Homo sapiens: one gene and its partners. The protein of the gene in region 4 interacts with the protein of the main gene of each other region in a biochemical or structural test. Each region holds a gene or a part of one and is shown on either strand. Other genes may lie near its edges.

Region 1 (4,595 bases), on a different chromosome or scaffold from region 4:
GCTATTCATATCATTTGTCAACTAGCTTTTCATGCTTAAAAATATATATTGTGGCCACCTGTCCTTGTTGGCAAGATAGTTCTGGATCACACTTGTTAAACACTGTGATATTCTAGTTTATGGATGGTCTAGAATACTTTTTTTTTTTGAGACAGACTCTAGCTCTGTTACCCAGGCTGGAGTGCAATGATGCGATCCTGGCTCACTGCAACCTCCACCTCCTGGGTTCAAGCAATTCTTCTGCCTCAGCCTCCCGAGTAGCTGGCATTACAGGCAAGCACCACCACGCTTGGCTAATTTTGTATTTTTAGTAGAGACAGGAGTTTCACCATGTTGGTCAGGCTGGTCTCGAACTCCTGACCTCAGGTGATCCACCCACCTCGGCCTCCCAAAGTGCTGGGATTACAGGCATGAGCCACCACACCTGGCCCTCTGATACATTATTAATGAATCTCCTAAGGCTGGACAGTAAGGTTGCTTCTGATTTTTTTCTGTGCTGAGGCCTGTGCTGCAGAGCCGTGACAGGGTTGGACTTCTGCGCAGCTCCTGATCACTTTGTTAAAGTCGCACCTTTGCAGGGGAGTGTCTAGGCCAGAAGCCACTCGCTTATGACTTTGGACACATGTTTCCAGGTTGCTGTCCTGGAAGTTCACACTGATTTACGCTCCTCTCAGTTTTCTTGAAGCTGACCAAGTCCTTTGCAAAGTGTAATGTGCAGGGAGGCAGAGGCCTTTCTAAGTCTGTCTGCCCTTCCATCCCTAGAAGAGAGAAGGCTTCTGCCAGCTCCTGCAGCAGATGAAGAACAAGCACTCAGAGCAGCCGGAGCCCGACATGATCACCATCTTCATCGGCACCTGGAACATGGGTGGGTCCGCGCGCCCCCTCCCTGCAGTCACCCCCTCTGCTTCTGCTTTCCTGACTCAGGCATCCTCAAGGTGGGGTGGAGTGACGACATCCATGTCCCCTTCCTTCCTGCCCCAGGGCCCTGCCCCTAAGCCCCAGCCCACCCGCACAACCTCCTTCCTGAGGAATTCCACCCTTTTCCTGAGATGATGGGTAAGAAAAACGAGCTTTGGGACTATCGTACCCCAAGAGCAGCTGGCGTGGGTTACTCTGTATGTCTAAATTGGAAAGTTTTAGGGAAAGAGTCTGAATATCTAGGTGAAGGGGCTCATGGGAACCCTGCCAGCCCTAGGCAGCTCACCAAGGGGCCCCAGGCCTGAGAGAAAGAAGTCCACCCTGAGTAGGGTTGCCAGATTTATCAGGAGAGAGACAGAGAGAGACAGAGAGATAGGTACGTAGACAAAGGATGCCCAGTTAAATTTTAACTTCATAGAAACAATTTTTTTTAGTATATGTTTAGCTACAAACAAATAAATACTAAATATATATGCTCATAGACATTATGCTGAATATATAGTATATATACATATGCTAAATAAGTGTAATTATTATATTAAATATGAATTATACTAAGTAATATTAGTTTAAGCATACAGCTAATAATATACTAAATATATGCTAAATATATTTTGTATTAAACATATATATTGTGTATTTACTAAACACATGCACTCTACTAAATATAAATAATACTAAATAATTTTTTAGTGTAAGTGTTCAGGTAGAAATAAATTAGATAGAAGACATCCAGATAAACTTATTCTAAAAACTACCAGTTTATCTGAAATTGGAATTTCACTGGGTGTCGTGTGTCCCCTACCCTTGTCCTGAGAGGAGTCTGGGAGGAAGAGGGTGAGCAGTGGCTGGCAGGGGCCTCCTGGAAGTGAAGTGACAGCTTGTCACTCGTGTCCCAGGGCCACAGCAGCCGTGGAGTAGAGCCCGGGCCAGTGCCCCAGGGGGTCACTTGTCCCCTTCGGTCCCTTTCAGTGTTTCTAATAAGAGACAATAGTCTGCCTGATCTCCTCCCTCTGGACATGGTCAGGGATGTCCATGACACAAGGGCAGGGGTGCCCTTCCCACAGAAGAGTATGGAAGGAGCCAGCTGAGGCCATGCCGCAGGAGGGCCGGGGACCCACCAGCCCGGGGGTTCGGGCACCCACTTTGAGCCTCTTGGGGGAGCAGAATTTAGCCACAGTCCATTTACTCCAATGCTTGGCTTCTTTGCACTTGTAAGGCAAGAAGCTCATCTCTTTGAGGAACAAAGTTTGCTCATCCTTCAAGGGCATTGTAGGGAGAACCGTTCAAAATTTCTTGATTGAGCTTCTTCAACTCAGTTTTGAAATGGGAATGCGGAGGAGTTTCCACACTCTCCCGTTTCTCTGGCTCACACCCAGGCATCCCTCCGCTCTGGGCTGGGATCTGTCTTGCAAGGGAGACTTTGTTGTCTCCCAACAATGGGTTAGAACCCGCCATCTAAAACTTGTCAGTTCCCTTGGCTGTCTTGAGAATAGGATGTGAGTTCCTTGAGGGACAGGACTGTGTCTCAATTATCGTAGCCTCAAAGTGCAGGACAGTGTCTGACATCAGGGAATCTTCTGGTGTTTCTATACCTTGAAACTTGACATTACGTTTAAAAAGAGGCTTAACTGAGCTCTAGCCCTAACCGACATCCTGGGTGAGGTTGGCGCCCAGGCCTCCATTGCAGGCATTTCTTTGGGCTGCCTGGATGGTCTTGTGTAATGACGTGACCTCCCTCACACTCCCGCCCTCTGTTTTGAATTCTCCTAATGCTTTGACTCGATGTGCCTTTGACTCACTTGGTGTTGGGTTTTGCTGTTGAAGGTAACGCCCCCCCTCCCAAGAAGATCACGTCCTGGTTTCTCTCCAAGGGGCAGGGAAAGACGCGGGACGACTCTGCGGACTACATCCCCCATGACATTTACGTGATCGGCACCCAAGAGGACCCCCTGAGTGAGAAGGAGTGGCTGGAGATCCTCAAACACTCCCTGCAAGAAATCACCAGTGTGACTTTTAAAACAGTGAGCAGCTGGCTGCACGCTGGGTGGGCTTCCGGGATAGAATCTTTGCTCGGCTGGGCTGTCTCAGAGGCAAGGGTGGGCTCAGCCTATCAGCTCTCAGTTTTCAAGGATGTCTGGAGGCCCCCACTGAGAGATGCGTCTGTATTCAGAAATAAATGGGATCTGTGGGGTATTGCTGAAAACCACTGAGTCCTCTATCTTCCCACCCTTGGTCAGCCCCGGTTCTCATCTTTAGGATGTTTTGTCTCGCCTATCAAGCATCGCTGGGAGTCCCCCGAAGGGTTGGGATTACAGACAGGATACCCCATACCCAGGGGCTGCGGCTGGGGCTGGGTGTGAATCACTGTGCCCTGGTTCACACCCTACACTTGGGCCGAGTATTGCAACGTTGTCCTCCCACCAGGTCGCCATCCACACGCTCTGGAACATCCGCATCGTGGTGCTGGCCAAGCCTGAGCACGAGAACCGGATCAGCCACATCTGTACTGACAACGTGAAGACAGGCATTGCAAACACACTGGGTGAGCAGGGCGGGGACCCTGTGTTCCTCCCACACCCTCTGCCTCAACTCTCGCGACCACATCATCCTGATCCCACCAGTAGTTCCCCGGGTTAAAAACAGAGAGCCTCACATCCTCAGATCCTGGCTCAGTCCTCAGCAAATAGGGGTGATTGGTCTCCCTGGCTGAAACTCACTCAGGGTCTACACCAGCAGTCCCAGGGATCTAGCTAAAATGCAGGTTCCGACCCAGTAGATCTTGGGTGGAGCTCAGGGTTCCAAGTTTCTGACAGGTTCCCAGGCGACTTGAGCGCTGCTGGTCGGCCCGTGGGACCCATTTTAAGAAGCAAGAACCTAGAAGAGGCATTGGCCAACTTTTGCAGGAAAGGGAAGGGCCTGACAGTAAATATTTCAGGCTTTGCAGGCCACTCAACACTATTCCTCTCTGCCTTTCTGGTGGGAAAGCAGCCATAGGCAACCCAGAAAGCGAATGGGAGTGACTGTGTTACCAGTGAGACCTTCCTTACAAGCACAGGCGGGAGGTGGCTGGCCCCTGCCCTCGGTCCCTGTGCACCAGGTTGGATCTGGAAACGCTGGTGTCAGTGGAGAGTTGCTGGCTTCAGAGAGCAGTAACAAGGGCAAGAAGTCTTCATAAGTGTAGGAGTGCAAGCCTGTGTGTTTGTGTAGGATGTGTGTGTGAGTAGGTCTGTGTATGTGAGTTTGTGTGAGTGACAGCGTGCATGTGAGTGTGTGAGCCTGTGTAGGTGTGTGAGAGTTTATGGATGTGTGTTTGTGAGCATGTTTATGTGAGTCAATGTGTGAGCGTACCACCCCATATCTATGAGTGTGTGTCTATATGTGTGTGAATCTATGCATGTGTTTGAGTGTGTCTATGTGAGTCTATGTATGTGAGTCCGTGTATGAGTGTACCACCCATATCTATGTGTGTGAGTGTCTGTATGTGTGAGTCCATGCATGTGTGTTTGTGTGTGTTTATGTGAGTCTACATATGTGAGTCCGTGTGTGAGTGTACCACCCCGTATCTATGAGTGTGTGTGTGTCCATGCATGTGTTTGTGAGTGTATTTATGTGAGTCTATGTATGTGAGTCCGTGTGTGTGTACCACTCCATATCTATGAGTGTGTGAGTGTCTA
Region 2 (4,595 bases), on a different chromosome or scaffold from region 4:
CTGGAGTGCAGTGGCATGATCTCGGCTCACTTCAGCCTCCCCCTCCTGGGTTCAAATGATTCTCATGCCTCAGTCTCCCAAGTAGCTGGGACTACAAGCATGTGCCACCATGCCTGGCTAATTTTTGTATTTTTAGTAGAGACAGGTTTTCGCCTTGTTGGCTAGGCTGGTCTCGATCTCCTGTCCTCAGGTGATCCTCCCGCCTTGGCCTCCCAAAGTGCTGGGATTACAGATGTGAGCCACCATGCCCAGCCTATCATGTGTATCGACTTTGATTGGTAGTTGCTTGTAGTGCTGGAGAAGGATTCTGAGGTTCATTGGAAGTGAGTGCCAGGAATGATTAGTAACATCTGCCATGGATACAATGGAAGAATGGCAGTATATCTATGTCTATGTATTTGCTGTGTGTAGGTGAGGTCTTTGTCTTTGGTAACTAGTTCAGCACTCAAAGTGGGGACACTCAGGTTGCTGTCATCCTTTTACAGGGTTTTAATCTCTTGGGAAGGGCCATTGGTCACTCACTGCATCCTAGCAACTCCCATCCATGTCCAGCTGCCCTCCACTATTAGAGAGGTGGTCCCTCAGACCCCCAGACCCCCTCTTTCTTATTCCATCCAATATATTCAGCACATAGTTATTGTTTCTTACTCTCGGCTGGGCACCAGGAACATGGATGGATGAAACAAGGTTCCTGTTGTCAGGGAAACCTGATTTTAGTTACAGCTACTGGGGAAACCAGAGTTTGTGCCATGGGAAAGTTCCAGCATGCCCATGGGAGTGTAGATGATGATCCAGTTTATTATGCCTGGTAGGATCTAGAGAGGCTTCCTAGTGGGGCAGTCTAGCAGGGCCACGAAAGAAAAGTAGAATTTTTTTTAGCAGGCAGAGATGAAACAAAGAGGCTTTGGGGTGAGAGCCTAGTGGTCTGAGTGCAGGATCTCAAAATTGCTAAACTGTTTGAAGTCAAAGGCAGAGTGGGGGAAAGAGAAGAAGCTACCAGTGTGGACCATGCCAAGCTTAGGATACTAGTTGAGGATTCTAGGTTCTACCTTATTGGTGATGAAAAACCTACAGATCCCTCCCAGCATGCTCTACCCTAGCCCCTCTGCAAAAAAACCTTTACATATCCTGGGCATCCTTACCCTGAACACACACTCCTCCATTCTCACTCTTCAATCTTCCTTTTCACATGTCAGACACACTTCTAGACTCCCAGTTGGAGGAGAAAGGTCTGGGGGCCTCCCCCTGGGGCAACTTGGGCCAGCAACTCTTGCTTCTGCCCACAGGGAGTCTAGTGGATTTTCTCAAGACCCCTTCAGGCATCAAGTTGACCATCAACAAACTCCTGGACATGGCAGCCCAAGTAAGGAGACTGGGGAGGGGGGCTGGGCAAGGGAACAGACCAGTGACGTGAAGACATCTGGCTCAGGACCGCTGATCTGTGTTTGGCCTGCAGATTGCAGAAGGCATGGCATTCATTGAAGAGCGGAATTATATTCATCGTGACCTTCGGGCTGCCAACATTCTGGTGTCTGACACCCTGAGCTGCAAGATTGCAGACTTTGGCCTAGCACGCCTCATTGAGGACAACGAGTACACAGCCAGGGAGGGTACGTGTGAGATTTAAGGGTGGTCTGGGCCCTGCAGGGTCTGGCCAAGCAGACCCAGGTGACCTCACTCTGCCTCCTCCTTAGGGGCCAAGTTTCCCATTAAGTGGACAGCGCCAGAAGCCATTAACTACGGGACATTCACCATCAAGTCAGATGTGTGGTCTTTTGGGATCCTGCTGACGGAAATTGTCACCCACGGCCGCATCCCTTACCCAGGTTAGAGCCAAGGGCAGGAACTGAAAGGGTGATGGGAAGGGCAAGTCCATGTCTTCCCATTCAATTCTTTCCAGTCTCAGAATCTGAAACTTTGTAGCTGCATCTCCTCTATCTTCTCAGGGGTATGAGTCCAACGTCCCCAGGCAGATGCCACATCTCCCAGGGCTGGCTTCCATCTCCGTATCTCTCTTTAATAACCCCAGCTCTTTTCTTTTTCTCTTTTTTTCTTTTTCTTTTTTTTTTTTTTTTTTTTTTTTTTTTTTGAGACGGAGTCTTGCTCTGTCTCCCAGGCTGGGGTGCAGTGGCGCCATCTTGGATCACTGCAACCTCTGCCTCCTGGGTTCAAGTGATTCTCCTGCCTCAGCCTCCCAAATAGCTAGGATTACAGGTACGTGCCACCATGCGCAGCTAATTTTTTGTATTTTTAGTAGAGACAGGGTTTCACCATGTTAGCCAGGATGGCCTCAATCTCCTGACCTCGTGATTGGCCTGCCTCGGCCTCCCAGTGTTGGGATTACAGGCGTGAGCCACCACACCCGGCCCCAGCTCTTTTCTTTAGTTCTGGCCCAGGCAGCCTGGTATGGTAGAAGAAGATCTAGCTCAGGAACAAGAGGCCTACCTTTTATCAGCAGATCTGCCACTGTTGCTAACTTTCTGTTTGGCTTTGTTCAGATCATTACTGTAACTAGTGAAGCTAGTCACTTCACTTCTCTAAGCCTCAGTTTCCTGATACTAAAAATAAGAGACTAGGCCAGGTACAGTGGCTTATGCCTATAATCTCAGAACTTTGGGAGACCAAGGTGGGAGGACTGCTTGAGCCCAGGAGTTCGAGACCAGCCTGGGAAACTGGTCGAAACCCCATCTCTACAAAAACAAAAGTTAGCCAGGTTTGGTGGCATGTGCCTCTAGTCCCAGCTACTCAGAAGGCTGAGGTGGGAGGATCACCTGAGCCAGGGAGGCAGAGGTTGCAGTGAGCCAAGACCATGCCATAACACTCCAGCCTAGGGCAATAGACCAAGACCCTGTCTCAAAACAAGAAAAAGAGAGACTCCATCTCTACAAAAAAAAAAAAACAAACAAACAAAAAAAACATTTAAAAATTAGCTGGGCATGGTGGCACACACCCGTAGTTTCAGCTATTTGGGAGGCTGAGGTGGGAGGATCATTTGAGCCCAGGAGGTTGAGGGTGCAGTGAGCCATGATTGTTCTATTGCACTCCAGCCTGAGCAACAGAGAGAGAATTTGTCTCAAAAAAAAAAAAAAAGAAAAAGAAAAAGAAAAAAGAAAAAATGAGAGACCATTTGTGAAAGAGCCTGACTCATAGTAGGTTGTCAGTATACACTGACTCCTCCCACCATCTCCTGGACAAAGCCCTTTACCCCTGAATTCAGCCAAGACAGGGATGGAATTTTTGAAAGGAACTTGCTAAGAAACTCTGGGGAAAGGAAATGGAGCATAAAGACAGGAGTAGGGGGGTCATGCGGCACAGTGGCTAGATTTGTAGAAGCTTCCCATATCCCCAGAGCAAGGTGAACAGACCTTTGCTCCAAGGAAGGTAAAGACACCTTGGAAGGCCGGATGCAGTGGCTCACACCTGTAATACCAGCACTTTGGGAGGCCGAGGCGGGTGGATCACAAGGTCAGGTGTTCGAGACCAGCCTGACCAACATGGTGAAACCCCGTCTCTACTAAAAAAAATATATATAAAAATTATCTGGGCATGGTGGCACGCGCCTGTAACCCTAGATACTCAGGAGGCTGAGGCAGGAGAATTGCTTGAACCCAGGAGGCAGAGGTTGCAGTGAGCTGAGATCATGCCACCGCACTCCAGCCTGGGTGACAAAGTGAGACTCTGTTTCAAAACAAAAACAAAAACAACCACCTTGGAAACAGGTGAAAAGCTGAGGGGCTTCCCTGCCCTGGGCTTGCCCCAAACCAGCGTCCAGGGGTAGTGCTGGAGCTGGAAATACAGAAATATTCTCCAGTTATCCTGCCAGGGGTCCTCACTGCTCCTTCCCGGTTCCCACAGAGGCAAACCCATAGGGAATGTATCTATTAGAAGAAAATAGGCAGTGAAAGCATGATGATAAATGGCAACTGACATATAGCATTAGGGTCAGGGAGACAATGGGGAGAAATGGGGACCTTGGTAAACTTGCAGCTGCTCCAGCAGATGGCTGCAATTAAGGCGTGGGGGACCCAAAAAAACAGATCTTTTGTTTTTTTAAGAGAAGCCCAAACTTGGAGTTTTAGGAAAATCTGTTCATTTCCATTTATTGGCGATTGATTCAAATTGTTTAAAAGCACTCTAGGGGCTGGGCACGGTGACTCACACCTGTAATCCCAGCACTTTGGGAAGCTGAGGTGGGTGGATCACAAGGTGAGGAGTTTGAGACCAGCCTGGCCAACATGGTGAAACCCTGCCTCTACTAAAAATACAAAAATATTAGCCAGGCGTGGTGTTGGGCACTGGTAGTCCCAGCCACTCAAGAGGCTGGGGCAAGAGAATCACTTGAACCCTGGAGGCGGAAGTTGCAGTGAGCCATGATCACGCTGTTGCACTCCAGCCTGGGTGACAGAGTGAGAGTCCATCTCAAAAATAAATATAAATAAATTAAATAAATAAATTAATTAAATGAATAAATAAATAAAACCACTCTAGGGCCAATCCAAAGTGGATCTGTGGGCTATACTCAGGCTGGATTTAGCCTGTGGGCTTGCACCCTTAACTCTGGCCATGGGTGTTTAGTTCCGTGGCCTATGTCCTCC
Region 3 (5,232 bases), on a different chromosome or scaffold from region 4:
GAGGTTGTGGAGAAATAGGAACACTTACACTGTTGATGGGAGTGTAAATTAGTTCAACCATTGTGGAAGACAGTATGGGGATTCCTCAAAGATCTAGAACCAGAAATACCATTTGACCCAGCAATCTCATTACTGGGTATATACCCAAAGGAATATAAATCATTCTGTTATAAAGATACATGCATGCATATGTTCATTGTAGCACTATTCACAATAGCAATGACATGGAATCAACCCAAATGCCCATCAATGACAGACTGGATAAAGACAATGTGGTACATATACACCAGGGAATACTGTGCAGCCACAAAAAGGAACGAGATCATGTCCTTTGCAGGGACATGGATGGAGCTGGAAGCCATTATCCTCAGCAAACTAACACAGGAACAGAAAACCAAGCACTGCATGTTCTCACTTATAAGTGGGAGCTGAACAATGAACACAGGGAGGGGAACAACACACACTGGGGCCTGTTGGGGAGAGTGGAGGGAGGGAGAGCATCAGAAAGAATAGCTAAAACATGAGGGGCTTAATACCTAAGCAATGGATTGATAGGTGCAGCAAACCACCATGGCACACATTTACCTATGTAACAACTCTGCACGTCCTGTACATGTATCCCAGAACTTAAAACAAAATAAAAAAGATAAAAAATAAATAAAACACACAGTCCAAAAAGTCATCCTGTCTTACAGAGCTATGGGTGATCTGGTCTCCTGCTACTTTCCGAACTTCTGTTCTGTTTCCCTCAACCCTCTAGCCTAACTACAATTGGCCTCCTTGCTGCTCTGGAACAGGCCAAGAGCTTTTCTGCCTCAGAGTCTTTGCACCTGCCATTTCCTCTGCTTGGGAAATGTTTGCCCCAAGGGAGTTGGGTGACTTGATCGCTCACATTACTTAGGTCTCTGCTTGAATGTCACAGATGTTCTCTTAATAAAGAAGAGGCAAGAAAAGCCACTTTATTATTTATTAAACTCCCGCATAGAGTGCAGTATTATTACTGTGTGCCAGACCCTGCTTCAAACACATTCCATGGACTATAAAATTGCATCTCTGAGCAGCTCCTAGAGCTGGTAGTAACAACTTACATTTACTGGGTGATTACCATGTGCCAGGTATTGTGCTAAACACGTTGTAGATATTAACTCACTTAATCCTCGTAACAATCCCATGAAGTAGGTACTGCTACTATCCCGGCTTTACATCTGAAGTACAGAGAGGTTAAGTAACTTGCCCCATGTCATCCAGCAAGAACTAAATTTGAACCCAGAGCTTAGCCACTGATGCCTCTTGAGAGAAGGAGTCAGACTTAAGTTGAGTCTTTAAAGGTGGTTGACCAGGCATTTGTCAGAGTTAAGAAAGAGAGGTAGGACATCCTTTTCCAGGCAGAGGGCATTGTGTGCACACACGTATAGAAGCAGGCAGCCCACCCTCATGCTTTCCAGGAAGCAAATGTGGCTCAGGTGTAAAGTGCCCGGTTGATGAAGGGAGTTAGCGGAGGGAGTATAAGGATGTACTGTCTGCCCCCTTAGGACACCTGCAGAGGATTAAGGTGGCTGTTTCTCCCTGGAGGTGGAGTGGGTGGGTCACTGCACAGGAGCCTATAGTTGTTGGTCTTTTAAACTCTTATTGGTGTAACCAGCCACGGAACTCTGAGGCAAGGGGTTGGGGGTGGGAAGGGAAACAGAGAAAAGGCAAGTGAAACAGAAGGGGAGGTGCAGTTTCAGAACCCAGCCAGCCTCTCTCTTGCTGCCTAGCCTCCTGCCGGCCTCATCTTCGCCCAGCCAACCCCGCCTGGAGCCCTATGGCCAACTGCGAGTTCAGCCCGGTGTCCGGGGACAAACCCTGCTGCCGGCTCTCTAGGAGAGCCCAACTCTGTCTTGGCGTCAGTATCCTGGTCCTGATCCTCGTCGTGGTGCTCGCGGTGGTCGTCCCGAGGTGGCGCCAGCAGTGGAGCGGTCCGGGCACCACCAAGCGCTTTCCCGAGACCGTCCTGGCGCGATGCGTCAAGTACACTGAAATTCATCCTGAGATGAGGTGGGTTGGCGACTAAGGCGCACCGGTGGGCACTGCGGGGACAGCAGGGCCCCGCGCGCAGGGAAGCCGCCCGGATCGCCCGGAACCGGGCATCTTCCGTGGCGGGTCAGCCGAGAGCCCGCCGGGTGGTGCTGAGTAGGGAGTCCCGGGCTCGGGGCTCCGCGGGCCGCTTTCAGGAGCAGCTGGCCTTGGCACCGAGCGTGCCCGCGGGAGGCGGGGGGGGGCGCTGCTCGGTGGCTCTGCTGCGTAGCCGGTGAACACTTGGCACCGATGCCCGCCTTCTGGGCAAGGTGCCCTGAGCCCAGCCCCTCGCCGGGCTGCAGCCCACCCTCGGCGCGCTCAGCCCGCTTCACCGCTTCAGGGACGGAATAGAACTCGCAGATGCAGGGTGTCGCTGACATTTTCAACTTTTTCTGCGGTTTCCGCCCGCTGTCTCTGACCCGAAAGTGCCCCCGGACGGTTACAGAGGACACTTAAGTGGTTTGCAAAGCCTGTGGTAGGGGAGGAGGGTGTAGAAGGGCCAAACCACGGAACTTAGTTTTATTCATTTATATAAAGCAGCACTCCGATTCTTTTTGCGCGGCCTGAAATGCATGTGACCAGAGAAGTAATTAACAAAACAATGTCAACTTCTAAAACCGAGACATTACTTAGATGATAAGGCGCAGCAACTCGGTGAATCTGTACAAACCTTGGAAAAAAAACACATTAGTCTATGGGACCTTCCAGTTTTCTCATGCTCCTTTCCAGCTACTAACCTCTCCTAAAGGGAACAACCACTTTTTGGATTTGATTCCCAGGCCTCGCTTTCACCGGGAAATTATCGTTGCTTGTAAAACAGAAGAAGCCGGGAAGGCAGGCAGGGGGAGCTGCTACTTTACACTCTGTGCTTTGGGATAGCAAAATCCCGCATTTAAGCAATCCGAGGAAACGAGCAAATAGACCTCCCTCGCCTCTCCGAGCACACTCAACAGTTCCGGTTGCAAAATGTTTGCCTCCTGGGCTTCCCAGCGTCCCGTTAGTTGTTCTATTTACACATAATTAGATACTTAATGGAGAGAGAAACTAGAAGTTGAGGCGTTCCTCCAGGCTGTATTGTAAAGTATGAAGTGAAATCCAAAATGAAATGGTAATGTTAGAAAGCAACCTCATTAAAAAAAAAAAAAGTAACACTGGTCTTGAAGATCTTTCAATGTGAGTACATAAAGATCTATCTCATTTCTTTTGACAGCCCATAGTATTTCATAAACTAGATGTAACCATTTCCTATTGACAGGAAATTAGCTTGTTTCCAATTTTTCAATCCCATTCATTCATCCAACAAGTATCTGTTGAGCACCCACTATGTTCCAGACAGTGATCTAGCTACTGATGACACAAGAGTGAATGACGAAGTTCTCACTCATGAAATTTTCACCTTAGTTGGGAGAAACATGATGCAATGAAAATCTTCATACATACATTGTGTGTACATATGGGAGTATTTCTGTAGGATAGATTTCTAGTGATGAAACTGCTGAGTAAAAGGGAGAATTATGCATATTTTAAGTTTTGATTTTTCCAAATTCCAGGTATTCCATATATACTCCAAAATAGTTGTGCCATTTTACTCTCCCATCATCAGTCTATCAGAGGGGATGCTTTCCCACAATCTCTTGAATGCTGAATATTTTCAACTTTTTTACTTAAGAGAAAAAAGAGCATCTAATTGTTCCCTCAGTATCAGTGAGTCTAAGCATCTTGTATATGTTTATTTGCCATTTATATTTTTTTCTGTGATTTTCCTGTCCAGATACTTGATACTTTCTATTGAGCTGCTTATTTATTTCTTATGGGAGATTTTTATATATTTTAGATAATATTCTCTCTCTCACACACACACACACACACACACACACACACACACACACACACACACACATACAGTCTTACAGCCACATCCCTGAAATCTTGACCTTGTGAACATGTTTTACTGGCAGCACTCTGGACTCGATCATTGCCTTGAGACTATTTCTTTTTTGATATTCTTTGGAAAGACTAACAATGACAGTTTTATTTTCAAACCCAACAAATCCTGGCATGGAAATGTTTGCTCTTGATTCTGCTTTTAAAAAAATAAAGAATTATTTTCTCTCTTTCTTTCTGCACCTTATCAGAAACAGCTAAAAGAAGTGAGTTGGGCCAGGCACTGTGGCTCACACCTGTAATCCCAGCACTTTGGGAGGCCCAGGCAGGTGGATCACTTAAGGTCAGGAGTACAAGACCTGCCTGGCCAACATGCTGAAACTCCGTCTCTACTAAAAATACAAAATTAGCCGGGTGTTGTGGCGCGTGCCTGTAATCCCAGCTACTCTGGAGACTGAGGTGGGAGAATCGCTTGAACCCAGGAGGAGGAGGTAGCACTGAACCAAGATCCAGCCTGGCCAAGAGAGTAAGACTCCGTCTCAAAACCAAACCAAACCAAACCAAAAAAAGAAGTGAGTTGGCACTTTCAACATTCTGCCTGGAAATCTCCTTACCAAACCTATAAGATCATTAGGTATATTTTCTGCACTTTGTATTGTGACAGGTGACAGTGTTACCAAACTTTTTACCAGGACATAATAGGGTCTGCCTTTCTTCTAGTTGCTAACAATTTCCCCCAAGTCCATCTTGCCTGCACTAACAGTCTCCTTTAGACCTCTCCTCTCCTGCCTGTCACACATTCCTAGTACTAATGCTACAGTATAGTAGTAAGGGTCTCCAGAGAAACAACATTTATATAACATAATATAAATACATTAATAGAGAGAAAGAGATTTTAAGAAATTGGCTTATATCATTGTGAAGTCGGGCAAGCCCCAAATCTGCTGGACAGGCCAGCAGCCTGGAGACCCAGGGAAGAGTTGATGTTGCAGCTGGAGTCCAAAGGCAGTCTCTGGCAGAATTCTCTTTTACTTCTGGGACCTTGGTCTTTCTCTTAAGGCCTTCAACTGATTGGATGAGGCCCACCACATTATGAAGGGTAACATGCTTTACACCGAGTCTCCTGACTTAAAATCTAAAAAATACCTTCACATCACAACTAGATGTGTTTGACCAAATATCTGGATACCATGCCTGGGCGAATTGCCACTTAAAATTAATCATCACGTACATGTTTTAAGGTTTTGTTACACAAGACCTCACTTCCAAGTATCACTTTCTGTTTTGGTC
Region 4 (4,595 bases):
AAAAAAATGACTTGGGACCACTTATAAAAATTATGTATTGTTCAATGAGATACAATTAATGAGGAAATCAGGATGAGAGAAAAATAAAGGCAGGGAAATAAAGCTATGGCCCATTTAGCACAAACGCATCCCAAAGATTGCTAGAAGCAGAGGTGAAATTTTTGCTGTGTGTTAACAATCAAAGCAAAAAGAGGAACAAGGTCCATTAGAACATTCTCAGAATCCACAAGATAGAAATGAATCAGTTGTTCAGCATAAACACAGTGTTTCCTGGTGCTGTTGGAACACTTTGTGAAATTAGGGACAATATCTCATCAACATCCCAGACCAACATCCCAAAAGACCATTTAATAGCTTGCATCTGTGCTTCTCCCTACCCCATAGCCCCTCCCTCCAGAGATGACCACTATGCTGACTTGTAAAATATTAATCTTATATCCAGCCACCTTTCTTTTTCGTTTGTTTGTTTGTGTTTTTGCAGACAGAGTCTTATTCTGTCGCCCAGTGCAGTGTTGTGATCTCAACTTACTGCAACCTGTGCCTCCCAGGTTCAAGTGATTCCCCTGCCTCAGCCTCCCAAGTAGCTGGGATTACAGGTGCATGCCACAATGCCTGGCTAATTTTTGTATTTTTGGTAGAGACGGGGTTTCACCATGTTAGCCAGGCTGATCTCGAACTCCTGGCCTCCCACAGTGCTGGGATTACAGGTGTGAGCTGCCATTCCTGGCCTTATCCAGCCACCTTTCTAAACTCACATTTATTTCTAATAATTTGTCTGCAGACTCTTTGAGGTTTTTACATATCATGTCATCTGTCTTTGAGAGTTTTAAACATTGGACTGCTCCATTCACTCAAAAATTTTAAAAAATTCCATGATTGCATTATTCATACTTCATGGAGATAGATGGGGGGCTAAGAAAGCATACCAGACATAGTCACTTTCAATCCCAGGTCCAAATGCTGGATAGGTAGCTTCCTTGAGAATGGGCATGGTAGAAATTTCTGGGGGGACGTGTAGGGATTTGGGAAAAACACCTGGTTTTATGGTCATGGACTTTCAGTACATTTTTTTCCAAATCCCCTACAGATCAATTACTTTTTCTCTTTTTTATACTTATTTAATTTTTTTTAGATGGAGTTTCGCTCTTGTTGCCCAGGCTGGAGTGCAATGGCGCGATCTCAGCTCACTGCAACCTCTGCATCCCGGGCTCAAGCGATTCTCCTGCCTCAGCCTACTAAGTAGCTGGGATTACAGGCATGTACCACACCCGGCTAATTTTGTATTTTTAGTAGAGACAGGGTTTCACCATGTTGGTCAGGCTGGTCTTAAACTCCTGACCTCAGGTGATTCACCCACCTTGGCCTCTCAAAGTGCTGGGATTACAGCCGTGAGCCACTGCGCCTGGCCTCTTTTCTTTCTTTTTTTTTTTTTTGAGACAGGATCTCACTCTGTCACCTAGGCTGGAGTGCACTGGCATGATCATGGCTCACTTCAGCCTCGACCTCCCAGGCTCAGGTGATCCTCCCACCTCAGCCTCCTGAGTAGCTGGGACTACAGACACATGCCATCATGCCCAGCTGATTCTTTTGTATTTTTGTAGAGTCAGGGTTTTGCCATGTTGCCCAGGCTGGTCTCGAACTTCTGGGCTCAAGCGATCCTCCTGCCTCGGCCTCCCAAAATTCTGGGATTACAGGTGTGAGCCACTGCACCTAGCTTCATCCATATTTTTTTTAGCCATGTATAGAACATGAGATGTTTGAAGTTGTTTTCTGACAGGAATTTGGAGAGTGAATATTTTATGGTGCTGATTAAACCCAGATTCATGTGCTTGGAAAAGACAACCACAGGGAAGCTAGTGAGTGCTTTGAGATATGTCAAGGGGTAAAACTAAGACCACAAGTGGGCTGCAGAAGCACCTACAGGCATTGCCAAGAGGATCTCCAAAAAGCAGTTCACCCTGGTCTGCTCTGAAGTTTGGATACAAGTCCTGACCCATGGGCATGGTTCAGGATCTTCTAGCCTGGAAAATTTTCAGGGCAGTTGCCCACAACCAACCAACTGACAAAAACACAGCAATAGCTAGAGAGCACCCAATTTTAAGCAATCCACCCTTCCGTCAGCCTGCTACTGTGAATGAGCCTCAATATGTGATCTGTAGTTAGCTGAATTCTATTGACAGCCTATGGTTACTGGATATAAGCCAATTCTGTTCTGGGGACTTGCCAGAAATGACACAATTGGCCAGTTGACCCACAGCCTAGTTCCTAGCAGAGATTGGATAGCTGATTGAGCATTGTGGCTGTTTTGAGGCTTGACCAGAGATTCCTGCCGTTGGCAGAGGGGAATCTGTAGTCTTTGCTTCTTGGTAGCAGGTGAGGCTGAAAACGCAAGTAGCAGGCTAAAAACTGGTTTCAAGTCCTCACCATCTGGTGAAACCTCAGAGCCCATCAGATAGAAAATGCCAGCTGGGACTGTGCTAATTCGGTAAGGCCTGGGTGGAGAAGGAGGGCCTGGGCACGACCATCTGGTTTCGGAATGGAGGTAGCAGTCATTTATTAAGCACTTAATGTATATCGGGCACTGTACAGGAGACGTTCTGGCTGTTCTCCTGTACATTTCCTGCAAAGACCTAATGAGATATGATTACTCCATCCTACAGGTAAGGAAACTGAGCTCAGAGAGTCTAGCTGCCCAGGGTCACACAGTAAATGATGAGCCAGGACTTGAACACTTGACTGCTTGAATCCTGTACTCCCTCCAGGGGCCAAGATGTGGCAGCTCACAGAATGCCTATATCTTTTTTTTTTTTTGTCTTTTGAGACAGTCTCACTCTGTCGCCCAGGCTGGAGTGCAGTGGTGAGATCTCACCTCACTGCAACCCCCGCCTCCCAGGTTCAAGTGATTCTTGTGCCTCAGCCTCTCAAGTAGCTGGGATTACAGGCCTGCACCACCAAACCTGGCTAATTTTTGTATTTTTAGTAGAGAGGGGGTTTCACCATGTTGGCCAGGCCAGTCTCTAACTGCTGACCTCAGGTGATCCACCCACCTTGGTCTCCCAAAGTGCTGGGATTATAGGCGTGAGCCACCATACCTAGCTCTACATCTTTATCACACTCTGTTCCTTTGCCTTGGTGGGAAAAGTTGCAGCTTAGTACCAACTGCCTCCTGCTTGAGCCACTGTGCACAGTTACTATCAGCCTGGCCCTGTAGGCACGTAGAACCCCTGGACTCAATACTGCATAGGATGGGATAAGACCACATCTGATGTGGTGAAGGTCACCGGGATGATGTTGTTTCTGAGATAACAGGTATGTCTGCCTTCCTTCCCTTTGCATTTAGCTTTCACAATCAACAGTGTTGACATGAAGAGCCTGCCGGACTGGACGGTGCAAAATGGGAAGAACCTGACCCTGCAGTGCTTCGCGGATGTCAGCACCACCTCTCACGTCAAGCCTCAGCACCAGATGCTGTTCTATAAGGATGACGTGCTGTTTTACAACATCTCCTCCATGAAGAGCACAGAGAGTTATTTTATTCCTGAAGTCCGGATCTATGACTCAGGGACATATAAATGTACTGTGATTGTGAACAACAAAGAGAAAACCACTGCAGAGTACCAGGTGTTGGTGGAAGGTGAGTCCTTGGAACTGAGCACAGGCAAGCAGATGGAGCATAGCACACAGTGGCGTGAATAACAGCTGTGAATGAATAGTGACACTGGACTTAACTCTCCACCCATCACCCTCTCATTCATCTGCCTGGCATTTTCCTTACCTGAATACGTAAGCACTAGACATATTCCCAATAGGCCAGGCCCTTCCTTCCTTCCTTCCTTCCTTTCTTTCTTTGATGGAGTCTCACTCTGTCACCCAGTCTGGAGTGCAGTGGTGTGATCTCGGCTCACTGCAACCTCTGCCTCCCAGGTTCAAGCGATTCTCCTGCCTCAGCCTCCCAAGTAATTGGGATTACAGGTGTGTGCCACCACACCTGGCTAATTTTGTATTTTTAGTAGAGATGGGGTTTCACTGTGTTGGTCAGGCTGGTCTCGAACTCCTGACCTCAAGTGATCCACCTGCCTTGGCCTCCCAAAATGCTTCTTCATCTCGTCTCATAAATTAAAATTTCTTCTTCAAGACTCAACTCAATGATGTCTTCTCTTTCCAAAACAAAATGGGTCTACCCCAGGGTGCCAGTCAGTACAGCTCTGATGCTCTCTCTACATTCAATGGTATTTGTGTGTATAAAGGCCACAGCGGTGTGTTAAGACACCTCGTTCTGCAGTCACTCTGCCTGGGTTTCAATCTGGGCAAGTCCCTTAACAGCTCTAAACTTCAAAATCCTCACCAGTAAAAGGAAGATAACAACGATACCCATTTCAGGCAATTATTGAGAGGGTTAAAAGTGTCATGTGGGTAGAGTGCTTAGCAAAATTTCCAGCACCTAGTGAGTTCCTAATAAATAGAAATGTATTTATTTATTTTGAGACAGAGTCTTCCTCTGTCACCCAGGCTAAAGAGCAATGGCGCGACCTTGGCTCACTGCAACCTCTGTCTCCTGGGTTCAAGCGATTCTCCTGTCTCAGCCTCCCAAGCAA

What was found. Proteins that work in one complex are often made in the same cells at the same time.
Region 1: the proteins of PECAM1 (region 4) and INPP5D form a complex in vitro, tested with the Homo sapiens proteins (one study listed by BioGRID).
Region 2: of the proteins of PECAM1 (region 4) and LCK, one has a biochemical effect on the other in vitro, tested with the Homo sapiens proteins (one study listed by BioGRID).
Region 3: the proteins of PECAM1 (region 4) and CD38 form a complex in vitro, tested with the Homo sapiens proteins (one large-scale study listed by IntAct).

Annotation. Positions count from the first base shown.
Region 1 is NC_000002.12:233,160,962-233,165,556, forward strand, and holds part of INPP5D (phosphatidylinositol 3,4,5-trisphosphate 5-phosphatase 1), read left to right. Parts: intron 1-762; coding exon 763-865; intron 866-2,745; coding exon 2,746-2,942; intron 2,943-3,345; coding exon 3,346-3,463; intron 3,464-4,595. UniProt on the Homo sapiens protein: Phosphatidylinositol (PtdIns) phosphatase that specifically hydrolyzes the 5-phosphate of phosphatidylinositol-3,4,5-trisphosphate (PtdIns(3,4,5)P3) to produce PtdIns(3,4)P2, thereby negatively regulating the PI3K (phosphoinositide 3-kinase) pathways.
Region 2 is NC_000001.11:32,278,385-32,282,979, forward strand, and holds part of LCK (tyrosine-protein kinase Lck), read left to right. Parts: intron 1-1,286; coding exon 1,287-1,363; intron 1,364-1,456; coding exon 1,457-1,610; intron 1,611-1,694; coding exon 1,695-1,826; intron 1,827-4,595. UniProt on the Homo sapiens protein: Non-receptor tyrosine-protein kinase that plays an essential role in the selection and maturation of developing T-cells in the thymus and in the function of mature T-cells. Plays a key role in T-cell antigen receptor (TCR)-linked signal transduction pathways.
Region 3 is NC_000004.12:15,776,611-15,781,842, forward strand, and holds the start of CD38 (ADP-ribosyl cyclase/cyclic ADP-ribose hydrolase 1), read left to right. Parts: upstream 1-1,717; 5' UTR 1,718-1,804; coding exon 1,805-2,037; intron 2,038-5,232. UniProt on the Homo sapiens protein: Synthesizes cyclic ADP-ribose (cADPR), a second messenger for glucose-induced insulin secretion.
Region 4 is NC_000017.11:64,376,863-64,381,457, reverse strand, and holds part of PECAM1 (platelet endothelial cell adhesion molecule precursor), read left to right. Parts: intron 1-3,340; coding exon 3,341-3,634; intron 3,635-4,595. UniProt on the Homo sapiens protein: Cell adhesion molecule which is required for leukocyte transendothelial migration (TEM) under most inflammatory conditions.